Homo sapiens: one gene and its partners. The protein of the gene in region 2 purifies or fractionates together with the protein of the main gene of each other region. This does not show direct contact. Each region holds a gene or a part of one and is shown on either strand. Other genes may lie near its edges. The genes, in order: RIPK2, IRF4 and PRRC2B.

Region 1 (3,651 bases), on a different chromosome or scaffold from region 2:
ACTTAATCATCCCCTCTATTCCCAAATCCACGCAATTACATTTTCTGTCTTCATTGAACTTTCGTCTTATATTTCCTTCCTTCCTTCTTTCCTTCCTTCCTTCCTCCCTCCCTGCCTCCCTCCCTCCCTCTCTCTCTCTCTCTGTCTCTCTCTCTTTCTTAGATGGAGTTTTGCTTTTGCCACCCAGGCTGGAGTGCAATGGTTGCGATCTCAGCTCACTGCAACCTCCACCTCTCAGGTTCAAGCGATTCTCCTGCCTCAGCCTCTTAAGTAGCTGGGATTACAGTTGCATGCTACCACAACTGGCTAATTTCTGTATTTTTAGTAGAGATGGAATTTCACCATGTTGGCCAGGCTGGTCTTGAACTCGTGACCTCAGGTGATCCACCTGTCTCAGCCTCCCAAAGTTCTAGGATTACAGGTGTGAGCCACTACACTCAGCCATGAACCTTAGTGTTATATTTTCAAAAGCCCTCTGGCCATCAACCCTTTGTGTGCTCCTAGTACCTCAAATTAAAAACAAAAACAAAAACATTAAAAGTATAATTATCCGTCTTAACTCTAAAACTTGTTTTAACTTTTTTTTTTTTTAATTGAGATAGAATCTTGCTCTGTCACTCAGGATGGAGTGCAGTGGCGCAATCTCAGCTCACTGCAACCCCTGCCTCCCAGGTTCAAGTGATTCTTGTGCCTCAGCCTCCTGAGGAGCTGGGATTACAGGTGTGCACCACCATACCCGCTAATTTTTTTGTATTTTTAGTAGAGATGGGGTTTTGGCATGTTGGCCAGGCTGGTCTTGAACTCCTGGCCTCAAGTGATTTGCCCACCTTGGCCTTGCAAAATGCTGGGATTACAGGTGTGAGCCACCGCATGCAGCCTGTTTTAACTTCTATTTCTTTTAATGGCACCAATGTTCTCCCAGTCCCCAGGCTTAACAATTTATTTGGCTTTACCTCTTTTTTCTCTCATCGCTCCTCTAAGTGAAAAGTTACAAAGTCCTATCATCTAGTTGTCTATAACATCTCACATACCACCCCTCCTTTCTTTCATTCTGTATCGGTTCTTAATAATCTCTCACGGGTACTACAGTAATAGTCTCCTAACTGATCTCCCCATCTCAAGTTTCCTTTTCCTTTCAAAATATCCTACACATTCCAGCCAGAATGAATCTCCCCAAAGTAAAAAATTTTATGTCACTCCCTTGCTCAAAAAATTGCAATAGTTGCTTCCTACTCAAGTAAAAAAGTCCAAATAGTTCAGCTGAAAGTTAGAATTCTTGATGATATGACTCCAATCTACTTAGCTCTTACTTCTTTCATTCACCTTCTTTACTAGCTAAACCAAATTACTCACTGTTCTCTGTATTTTCTTGCTTCTGTACCTGTATGTTGTTCCTTTTGCCTGGAATGCCTATCCTTTGTAATTACAGATCCAGCCTTCAGCCAGAAATAATTTCATGATGACAACATGGTAGAGTAGAGTGACATGATAATATTTATCAAAAGTCTTAGATGTGCCAGCTACTAGCTATGTGATCCAGAGTCCTTAAATGTGTAAAATGAGGACATTTCTCTCACAAGGTTGTTGTGAAAGTCCTTTGTACAGTGTTACTCTTCCACTGTACTACCATAGCTCTAGATCCACGTCTCTCTTATATCACTATCTCATATAATAGTTATTTAGAAACATTTCTCCTTTTTCTTGTAAGAGATTTTTTTGCGGACATTTTCTGGCAGTGTCTAACATAATGCCTGTTTTTTAAAATTTATTTTTTGACACAGAGTCTCACTCTGTCGCCCAGGATGGAGTGTGGTGGTGCAATCTCGGCTCACTGCAACCTCCCTCCCAGGTTCAAGCGATCTTTCCGCCTCAGCCTCCGAAGTAGCTGAGACTACAGGTGCCCACCACCATGCCTGGCTAATTTTTGTATTTTTAGTAGAGATGGGGTTTCACCATGTTGGCCAGGCTGGTCTCGAACTCCTGACCTCAGGTGATCTGCCCACCTTGGCCACCCAACATGCTGGGATTATAGGTGTGAACCACTGCGCCTGGCCAAACATAATGCCTTAAAACTTAAATGTATTTGTTGAATATCACACTACTATTTTCCTATCTTTAGACTCTGTCGCTTTACAAAATGAGTTATATATGCAAATTAAAGTTCCATAGAAATCATGACTGCTTGCAAAAATTTGATCTTGAAAGAAAATGGAAAACTTGCAAGTAAATAATGATTGGAAAATCTACATACTAGATAAAAAATCATTGTCTTGAGGAGCTGGCAGGGACCTTGAAGTTTCAGGAGAACCACTATTTTCATGGAGCTGAGAGGATCCACATGATTCCTAAAGTAAATAAAAAATAAAGGGTTTAGGTTAATAAAAATTATCGAGCTTTAATTTCTAAATAGTTCTTGTTTGTGGCTTATCACAAATGAAGATAAAAACTACTAATTTTTTTTTTTCAGACAGGGTCTCACTCTGTTGCCCAGTCTGGAGTGCAGTGGCACAACCTAGGCTCACTGCAGCCCCACCCTCCTGAACTCAGGTGAACCTCCCATCTCAGCCTCCTTAATAGCTGGGATTATAGGTGCACACCACCATACCATGCTAAATTTTGTATCTTTCGTAGAAATGGGGTTTCGCTACGTTGCCCAGGCTGGTCTCAAACTCCTGCGATCAAGTGATCCACCAGCCTTGGCCACACAAAGTGCTGGAATTACAGGTGTGAGCCATTGTGCCCAACCTACAAAACTACTAAAAATTATACTTTACAAAATTAAAGAAACACATACATCTATAAAATAACCAACAAAGATAAACTTATTTTCTTAATTAACACAAATGGGCGAAATAGGGGAATAATGAAACATTAGAAATAATTATTTTTTCAGTATTTTCTACACGATCTCAGATGCTGCAGCCAGTAGCTAGAATAGTGAATGAGAAATTTGGTATCTGCAAGTCTGGTCTCCTACAGATTTAGAAATGCCTGTTCTCAGCACCTCAGGTTCCTTCCACATGGAGGCACAGGAAAACATGGAAAAAGTAATGGAGAATTTTACTCCTAGCTCTGTCATGGAATCACTAGCTAACTTTCAATAAGGTATTTAACCTCTCTGGCTCTCAGGTTTTTGGCTCTATTATCCGCACTGTCTATCTAAAAATATGCATGAATGGCCTCAAAGATCAAATGAAATACTGTACATCAAGTGATTAAAAATGTGATATACTATGCTTTAAGGTTCGTTTTAAAGATACTACAGGTTTAATATCCCTTATCTGAAATGCTTGGAACCAGAAGTGTTTGGAATTTTGGATTTTTTTCAGATTTTGGAATATTTGTATATATATAACGAGATATCTTGGGGTTGGGACCCAAGTCTAAATATAAAATTCATTTATGTTTCATATACACCTTATACACACAGCCTGAAGGTAACTTAATTCAATATTTTAAAATAATTTTATACCTGAAACAAAGTTTTTTTTTTTGAGGTGGAGTCGCCCAGGGTGGACTGCAGTGGTGCGATCTTGGCTTGTTCAAGCAATTCTCCTGCCTCAACCCCCCGAGTAGCTGGGATTACAGGCATGCGCCACCATGCCCAGCTAATTTTTATATGTTTAGTAGAGATGGGGTTTTGTCATGTTG
Region 2 (3,651 bases):
TCTTTGATGAGCAGATCTCAAGTCTGGGAGGAGCACGTGAGTCCTCAGACTGTGCTGCTCGTTGGACCATGCTTCCTCCCTCACTAGTTTAAGGGTTACGCTTATTTTTCCAGGTCATTTGACATTTACTTTTCATTTGGGACTTTTCTAAATGAAACTCTGGCCTTTACAAAGAACAGGAAGCCACTATGGTAGGAGTGTAACTGAGGACTCACGTGAGCTGTGATGAGCTTTCTTTGCCTCTGAGGGTCTGGAAACTCCTCTCCAAAGCATAGAGTCACCTGGAATCTTGGCAGGGAGCGGCCGTGGTGAGCAAACGCTTGCAGCTCTGTAGAAGCCCACAAGAAAGAGACCATGTTCAGAAACCCTCATCACCGAACACACCAGGTTAAACAGGAAGCAAGAGCTTACTGTGATTCTGAACACTGCAAGAGGAATGAGCACTCTTACTCCGCTGAGTGGGGCTCTTGATGTGAACATCTCAGATACAAAATAGCATGTATGCATTCCTTTGGGTGCTTTCCCCCCAGGGCCCTCGGTCTCCCTCGATTCTTCAAGAGGAACTAGTCGACAGCTAAAGAACACTGCTTTGCAGCATTGGACCCACGAAGATTCAAAAGGTAGTAGACCACAGTGAAGTCGGGAGATAAAGAACAAGAAACGTAGTCACGCAATGGCAAAAGACCAATTTATGCCATGGACAAGTTTTCATTTAAAAAATCAGAATGTTTCGACATCCCAGGATCATTTTAAAACCTCATCCCCTCACTACAGAGCCCACATAATCCAGTATCTGTGCTACTGCGGACATCCACGTAACTCAGGCACCACAGAAAATATGTAACGTCAACGTGGTGACTGAGCACCAGCCATCGGCAGCTGAGTCCCACTGTCACTATGCCTGAACTGTGTAACTCTGAGTAGACTTCTTGCCTGTCTCCAGGGATGGAACAGTAACTTGACTTGAGAACAGGAGTGGGGCAGCCCCCCTGGCCTCCCGCTTGTGGATATACACATGTACATCCTGAAGCCACCACACCTACCCAAAAGATACAAAACGGACTGGAACATTGTTGGAAAGACAAGTGCCCATCCCCTGACTTTAGCCCATGCTCCCTCCCCTGTACACAAGACAAATCTTCTGCCTGTAGCTACAATAAAATGTCACGCCCGCAAAAGAAACGAGTTGACACAGGAGCCGCTACAGCTTCTGCAGAACAGACGCGTCCTTATCAGATACACACCCTCGGGCCGGGCCCTGGGGGCTGTCCCTAGTGCTGTGCAGACCTGAATAGGAAGATATCAAAGATCTCCACTGTTCTCTTCAACTGAACAGAAGTTTCTAGCTAACTTACAGGACTATTTGACTTCCTGCTTTTTTTTTTTTCCAGAATTCAAATCAAACCCAAATGACTTAGTCAGAATCTGTAAAATACATTCACACTGCCGTGATCTGAGACTACACCTACACAGGCTAATCAGAATGGCGAGTTGGCACAATTCTCTGAGAAAGCATGGCTCCAACCCTAGATAACATGAGAGTGTTTGGTGGGAATCCTTAATTATGCAGAAGCTGGTTGGCACAGCTGCAGTTTTTACGTTCACAGCATCCTCCTTGAACCTCAGTGAACACTTTGAGGTGAGAGGCTGCAGTGGGCAAAGAGCACAGCCCTTGGTTACAGAGGAAGGAATGAAAGCCAAGACCAGCTCTTGCTCACAGATTAATAGTAAGTTCTAGTCGCGCAAGTCTACAGCCCCAGGACACTCACAGGCGTCCACCCCCTGCCTGTGCTGTCTCTCACGCAGTGCACCTGTGACTCAATGTGCACCTTCCAGCTTAGTCACCACGGGGGCTCTACCTCCCTAAAAACGCCCAGCAAGAGGCACTCAGAAAAGCCAGTGCCAGTTCCTTGTGACACTTTCATTAGAAAGCCCTCACCTTGTGGTATCTTCTGAATCCACTGGCACCAAGGTCCAGAGTCTTCAGAAATCCAGGCCCAGTGGGCCTTAGCCTTCCTGGCCCATGTGAGCTCTTCCAGATCCCAAGGCAGACACAGGAGATGCTGACAGGGGAGGGGGGGTCCCCCCAGTTGCCCTTCAATTTCCTTGGTCCCCCATGAACACCATGCCCAACCCCAAGAAGGATGGGACCGCCCTGGCCAGGGCTTGGGGATGGTTCTGCCCTTAGAATGAGAGGTGTCCAGCCCCAGGTGACTTCCTCACTTGCCGCCGCCTCGGGGAACCAGCACAGTTCTCCCTCTTCCTATGGTCAGCCTCTGTGTGAGCTTAGTTATTTTTTTGTGGTGCGGGGGGCAATGGAGTCTCGCTCTGTCCTGCAAACTGCAGCACCGTGGTGCGATCTCAGCTCACTGCAACCTCCGCCTCCCACAGGTTCAAGCGATTCTTGTGCCTCATCCTCCTGAGTAGCTGGGATTACAGGCGCCCACCATCACGCCCAGCTAATTTTTGTATCTTTAGTAGAGACGGGGTTTTGCCATGTTGGCCAGGCTGGTCTTGAACTCCTGGCCTCAAGTGATCTGCCCACCTCAGCCTCCTAAAGTGCTGGGATTACAGGCATGGGCCACCACACCTGGCCTGAAGCTTAGTTATCTGGGGACATATTTGCTTTGGGCACCAAAAGAAAATCTGGATGAGCTTACAAAAACTTGGGTCACTTACACCCAGAAGTACGAGCACATGTCAACAGTGCCAGAGCACACAGACGTGTCATATTTTTATTTTAAATAAGTTGAATGAAGAAGCACATTCAAGAAAAGGGGAGGCACATGAGAAATCAAAGACACAGGAGTTTCTGAAGGGGCTCAGGAAGGGACAGGACTGGGAAAAGGCAGAGGAAGAGTTGGCGGTGGGGTGGCGAGTGGCGGGTAGAGCAGCTCCCTCCCACGCGGGAGGCTCCCTCCACCTGGACAGCCCCACAAAGCCAGTGAGGAAGCCCAGCATGACAGGGCGAGGGGCTTCACAGAAGCCAGCCAGAGGTTCGCTGAATTGTCATGAAATCCAAGGTAGAAAAACAAAACTCACTGGTTCTGAAAAATATGCTTAGAAATGTTCATATCACAGAGCCAACTTATAGCACTCTCCTATAACTTCTCCTGTGCAAAACCAGTACAGTCCACTCCACCCTCCGTCTCACTCGTGGGCCAGCATCTGCATGAGGGTGACACACCTGACAACCAAGAATGTTAACAATATGCTTCCAACCTTTATGATTTTTCTGGGAACCTGAAAAGAGCCGCCACATCAGCAGACGTATTTGTCGAGATCATAGTGCAATGAAATGGAACTGTTTTAAGAGGCGACTGCTGAAAACCAGAATTGCAAGAGAACAGCCTGAGCCATGGTCCACCTGGACCATCTGATCCGGACTCTCTGCCCACAACAGAGCCAGACAGAAGATCTCTACTGGAGTCAAGCCCCAAGCCCAGTGGGCGCCGAAGTCAACAGGAGGAAGACCTCAGCCTGGGGTGGGAGGGACCCTGTGGTTTCTGACCCCTGTGGCAGGCAGGCCATCACCACCTCCATTCTAACAGATAACGAGGTGCCTTACCTGACAAGAACTGCTGTGTGTCAAAGAGCTTGCAGGTCTGGTCTCTCTCCAGTTTGTTGGGCCGGTCGTTGCACAGCGCCAGG
Region 3 (3,651 bases), on a different chromosome or scaffold from region 2:
ACACCTGTATATTTTTTAGAAACCTAACATTATTTTTAAAACACTTAGTGTGGCAGGTCTGTTCACATGAATATGGAAAAATGGCTGGGTGTGGTGGCTTACACCTGTAATCCTAGCACTTTCAGAGGCCAAGATGGGAAGACAGCTTGAGGCCAGGAGTTCAAGACAAGCTTGGTCAACATAGCGAGACCCACCCCCACATCCCTAAGGAAGAAAAAAAAAGTATTACTGAAAATAAAAATAAGAGAAGTTACGCTTAAAAATACGTATGGAAAAATACTGTGATATTTTGAAAATGCCAAGTTGCAATACAATATAGTATATCCCATTTTTGTTTTTTAAAAAACCTCCCTACATGAGGCCATATTTATACGTGCACTGAGCCTAGAAGGATAAACAAAGCAAATTTATCAATAATGGTTACTGCCTGGGACATTGGGGAAAAGCTTTCATTTCTCTTCAAACACTTGGCTTTTAATTTTGTTTTTTTTTTTTTTTTTAAAGTATGGGCCAGGCGCAGTGGCTCACGCCTGTAATTCTAGCATTTTGGGAGGCTGAGGTGGACAGATGGCCTGAGCTCAGGAGTTTGCGACCAGCCTGGGCAACAAGGCGAAACCCCATCTCTACTAAAATACAAAAAAAAATTAGCCAGGCGTGGCGGGATGCACCTGTACTCCCAGCTACTCAAGAGGCTGAGGCAGGGGAATTGCTTGAACCTGGGAGGTGGAGGTTGCAGTGAGCCGAGATCATGCCACTGCACTCCGGCCTGGGCAACAGAGCAAGACTCCACCTCAAAAAAAAATAAATAAATAAATAAAATAACCTGTATACTTCTGCAATTAACATTTTACCAAAAACAAACAAACAAACAAAAAACCAGAAAATACCACATTATGATTCAGGACACTATCCTCTTCCCAAGGACTTCTGAACACTTGGCCCATTCAGTCCACCGACAGGTCGGTTGGGCAGGCAGGCAGGAGTGATGATGCCCCTCCCAGACAGGCCTGTGCTTTCTGCCCTGGCCTGGAACACAGCTGTTCTTTAAGCTCTGAACCATATGTAAACAACACCTGCCGAAAAAAGTTCTGCAAGACACAAAGGACCCATGGAAAGAGTCCTGGAGATGACCTCCTTTTTCCAGTAGGTCCTGCAGCGATCCATCCCATGGTTCTATACAAAGAGATGATCCTGAAGCGTGTCGGGAAGTTGACGCCGGCTTCCCGGAGGCACAGTCATTCTCTGCCCTCCTCCCTGCTGGCCACTGGCCATACAAGAATGCTTGCATAATGTTCACCATTCAAAGGGCCTCGGCACTCTCTGGAAAGCAGGCTGACCCACAAGTTCTCTTCTGGGACCCATACATTTCTGATTTCCACATAGGAACACATTTTTAATGTTCCAGGGCTCAGCACACTATTTTCAATAGGTGCTTATTTCGAGTCAGCTACATTTTCCAGAATGCCTTCCCTGACTGCCCCACACCCAGACTGAGGTGAGCTTGGTTTCTGCGTGGGCTCCTATAAGACCCCCTTCTCAGACACCTGGCACACAGTGATGAATGGGAAACAACAGAATTCTGCTTCCGGATGCATTTACTCACTCCACTGGGGGAAAGGACCATTCAATACATGAAAACAAAACTATCTACAGGCTGCTGCCCGTCGCTGAATGAATAAATAAAATGTGGTAGATACATGCAAATAAGAGAATATTATTCTGCCTTAAGAATGAAGTTAGTTCTGACACATGCTGCAACATGGATGAACCTTGGAAATACTATGCTAAAAATAAGCCAGACACAAAATGACAAATACTGGATGATCTCACTTACATGAGGTACTTAAGAGTATTCGGTTTCACAGAAAGAAAGTAAAATGGTTGGCAGGGCAAGGTGGCTCAACATTGCCACCATGGGATTACACATGGCTGTAATTCCAGCACTCTGGGAAGCCGAGGCAGGCAAATCGCTTGAGCTCAGGAGTTCGAGACCAGCCTGGCCAACATGGCGAAACTCCGTTTCTCCTAAAAATACAAAAATTAGCCAGACCTGTAATCCCAGCTATTCAGGAGGCTGAGGCAGGAGAATCGCTTGAACCCGGGAGGTAGAGGTGCAGTGAGCCGAGATCGTGCCATTGCACTCCAGCCTGGGAGACATAACGAGACTCTGTCTCAAAAATAATAACAATAATACAAAAATTAGACCAAGCACAGTGGCTCACGCCTGTAATCCCAGCACTTTGGGAAGTCGAGGTGGGCAGATCACCTGAAGTCAGGGGTTCGAGACCAGCCTGGCCAACATGGTGAAACCCCGTCTCCACTAAAAATACAAAAATTAGCTGGGCATGGTGGCAGGCGCTTGTAATCCCAGCTACTCGGGAGGCTGAGGCAGGAGAATCTCTTAAACCCAGGAAGCAGAGGCTGCAGTGAGCCGAGATCGCGCCATTGCACTCCAGCCTGGGCAACATCAAAACTCTGTCTCAATAAAATAAAATAAAATATACAAAAACTAGGCCAGGCACGGTGGCTCATGCCGGTAATCCCAGCACTTTGGGAGGCTGAGGTAAGCAAACCACTTAAGGCCAGGAGTTCGACACCAGACTAGCCAACATGGTGAAACCCCGTCTCTACAAAAAAATACAAAAATTAGCTGGGTGTGGTGGCGTGTGCCTGTAATCCCAGCTACACAAGAGGCTGAGGTTGCAGTGAGCCAAGATCGTGCCACTGCACTCCAGCCTGGGCGACAGTGAGACCCTATCTCAAAAAAAAAAAAAAAAGGAGAAAGAATGGTAAGAATGGTGGCCGCCGCCACTGGATGGGGGAGGGGAGTTGGCATCTAATGGGAACAGAGTTTCAGTTTGGGAAGATGAGAACGTTCTGGAGATGGATGGTGGTGATGGTTGCACAACACTGTGAAAGTGCTTCACGCCACTCAACTGTACACTTAAAAATGGTAAATTTTATGTTATGTATACTTCACCACAATTTTTAAAATTCAAATAAAGAAAAAAACACCTATTTACAAGTTGTGAAAACTGCTATAAAGAGAAACTGTAGGGGGCTCCGAAGAAATCACAGGAGGCTGAGGCAGGAGAATCGCTTGAACCCGAGAGGTAGAGGTTGCAGTGAGCCAAGATCGCGCCATTGCTCTCCAGCCTAGGCAACAAGAGCAAAACTCCGTCTCAAAAAAAAAAAAAAAGAAAGAAAGAAACCACAAGAGGATGAGGCCAAAGTTAGGTGGGGGGCTCTCCAGGGCCTCCTCCCCACCAGACCAGGATCTCCCCAGGAGTCAATGGGGCATCCATGTCCCTAGAAACAAAAACTGTTTAAGACAAAAGGCTTCTCCAGGTTCAAACCAGTAAATGGAGTAAGACCTCAAGCCCCACTCATCAAAGGGCTTAACCAGGACTGAGACCCCCCAGAACCTAGTGGCTCATGAAAGAGGCTGCCTTGCTGGGTGCCGTGGCTCATGCCTGTAATCCCAGCACTTTGATAGGCGGAGGCGGAGGGATCACTTGAGTCCAGGAGTCTGAAACAGCCTGGGTGTCCAGGCACGGTGGCTCACACCTGTCATCCCAGCACTTTGGGAGGCCAAGGCAGGTGGATCACCTGAGGTCAGGATTTCGAGACCAGCCTGGCCAACATGGCAAA

Evidence for each region.
Region 1: the proteins of IRF4 (region 2) and RIPK2 purify together in Homo sapiens (affinity purification with western blotting; one study listed by BioGRID). This does not show direct contact.
Region 3: the proteins of IRF4 (region 2) and PRRC2B purify together in Homo sapiens (affinity purification with mass spectrometry, with the first as the bait; one large-scale study listed by BioGRID). This does not show direct contact.

What each region holds. Positions count from the first base shown.
Region 1 is NC_000008.11:89,785,287-89,788,937, reverse strand, and holds part of RIPK2 (receptor-interacting serine/threonine-protein kinase 2), read right to left. Parts: intron 2,346-3,651; coding exon 2,252-2,345; intron 1-2,251.
Region 2 is NC_000006.12:401,695-405,345, reverse strand, and holds part of IRF4 (interferon regulatory factor 4), read right to left. Parts: coding exon 3,569-3,651; intron 329-3,568; coding exon 216-328; intron 1-215. UniProt on the Homo sapiens protein: Transcriptional activator. Binds to the interferon-stimulated response element (ISRE) of the MHC class I promoter. Binds the immunoglobulin lambda light chain enhancer, together with PU.1.
Region 3 is NC_000009.12:131,400,512-131,404,162, reverse strand, and holds part of PRRC2B (protein PRRC2B), read right to left. Parts: intron 1-3,651.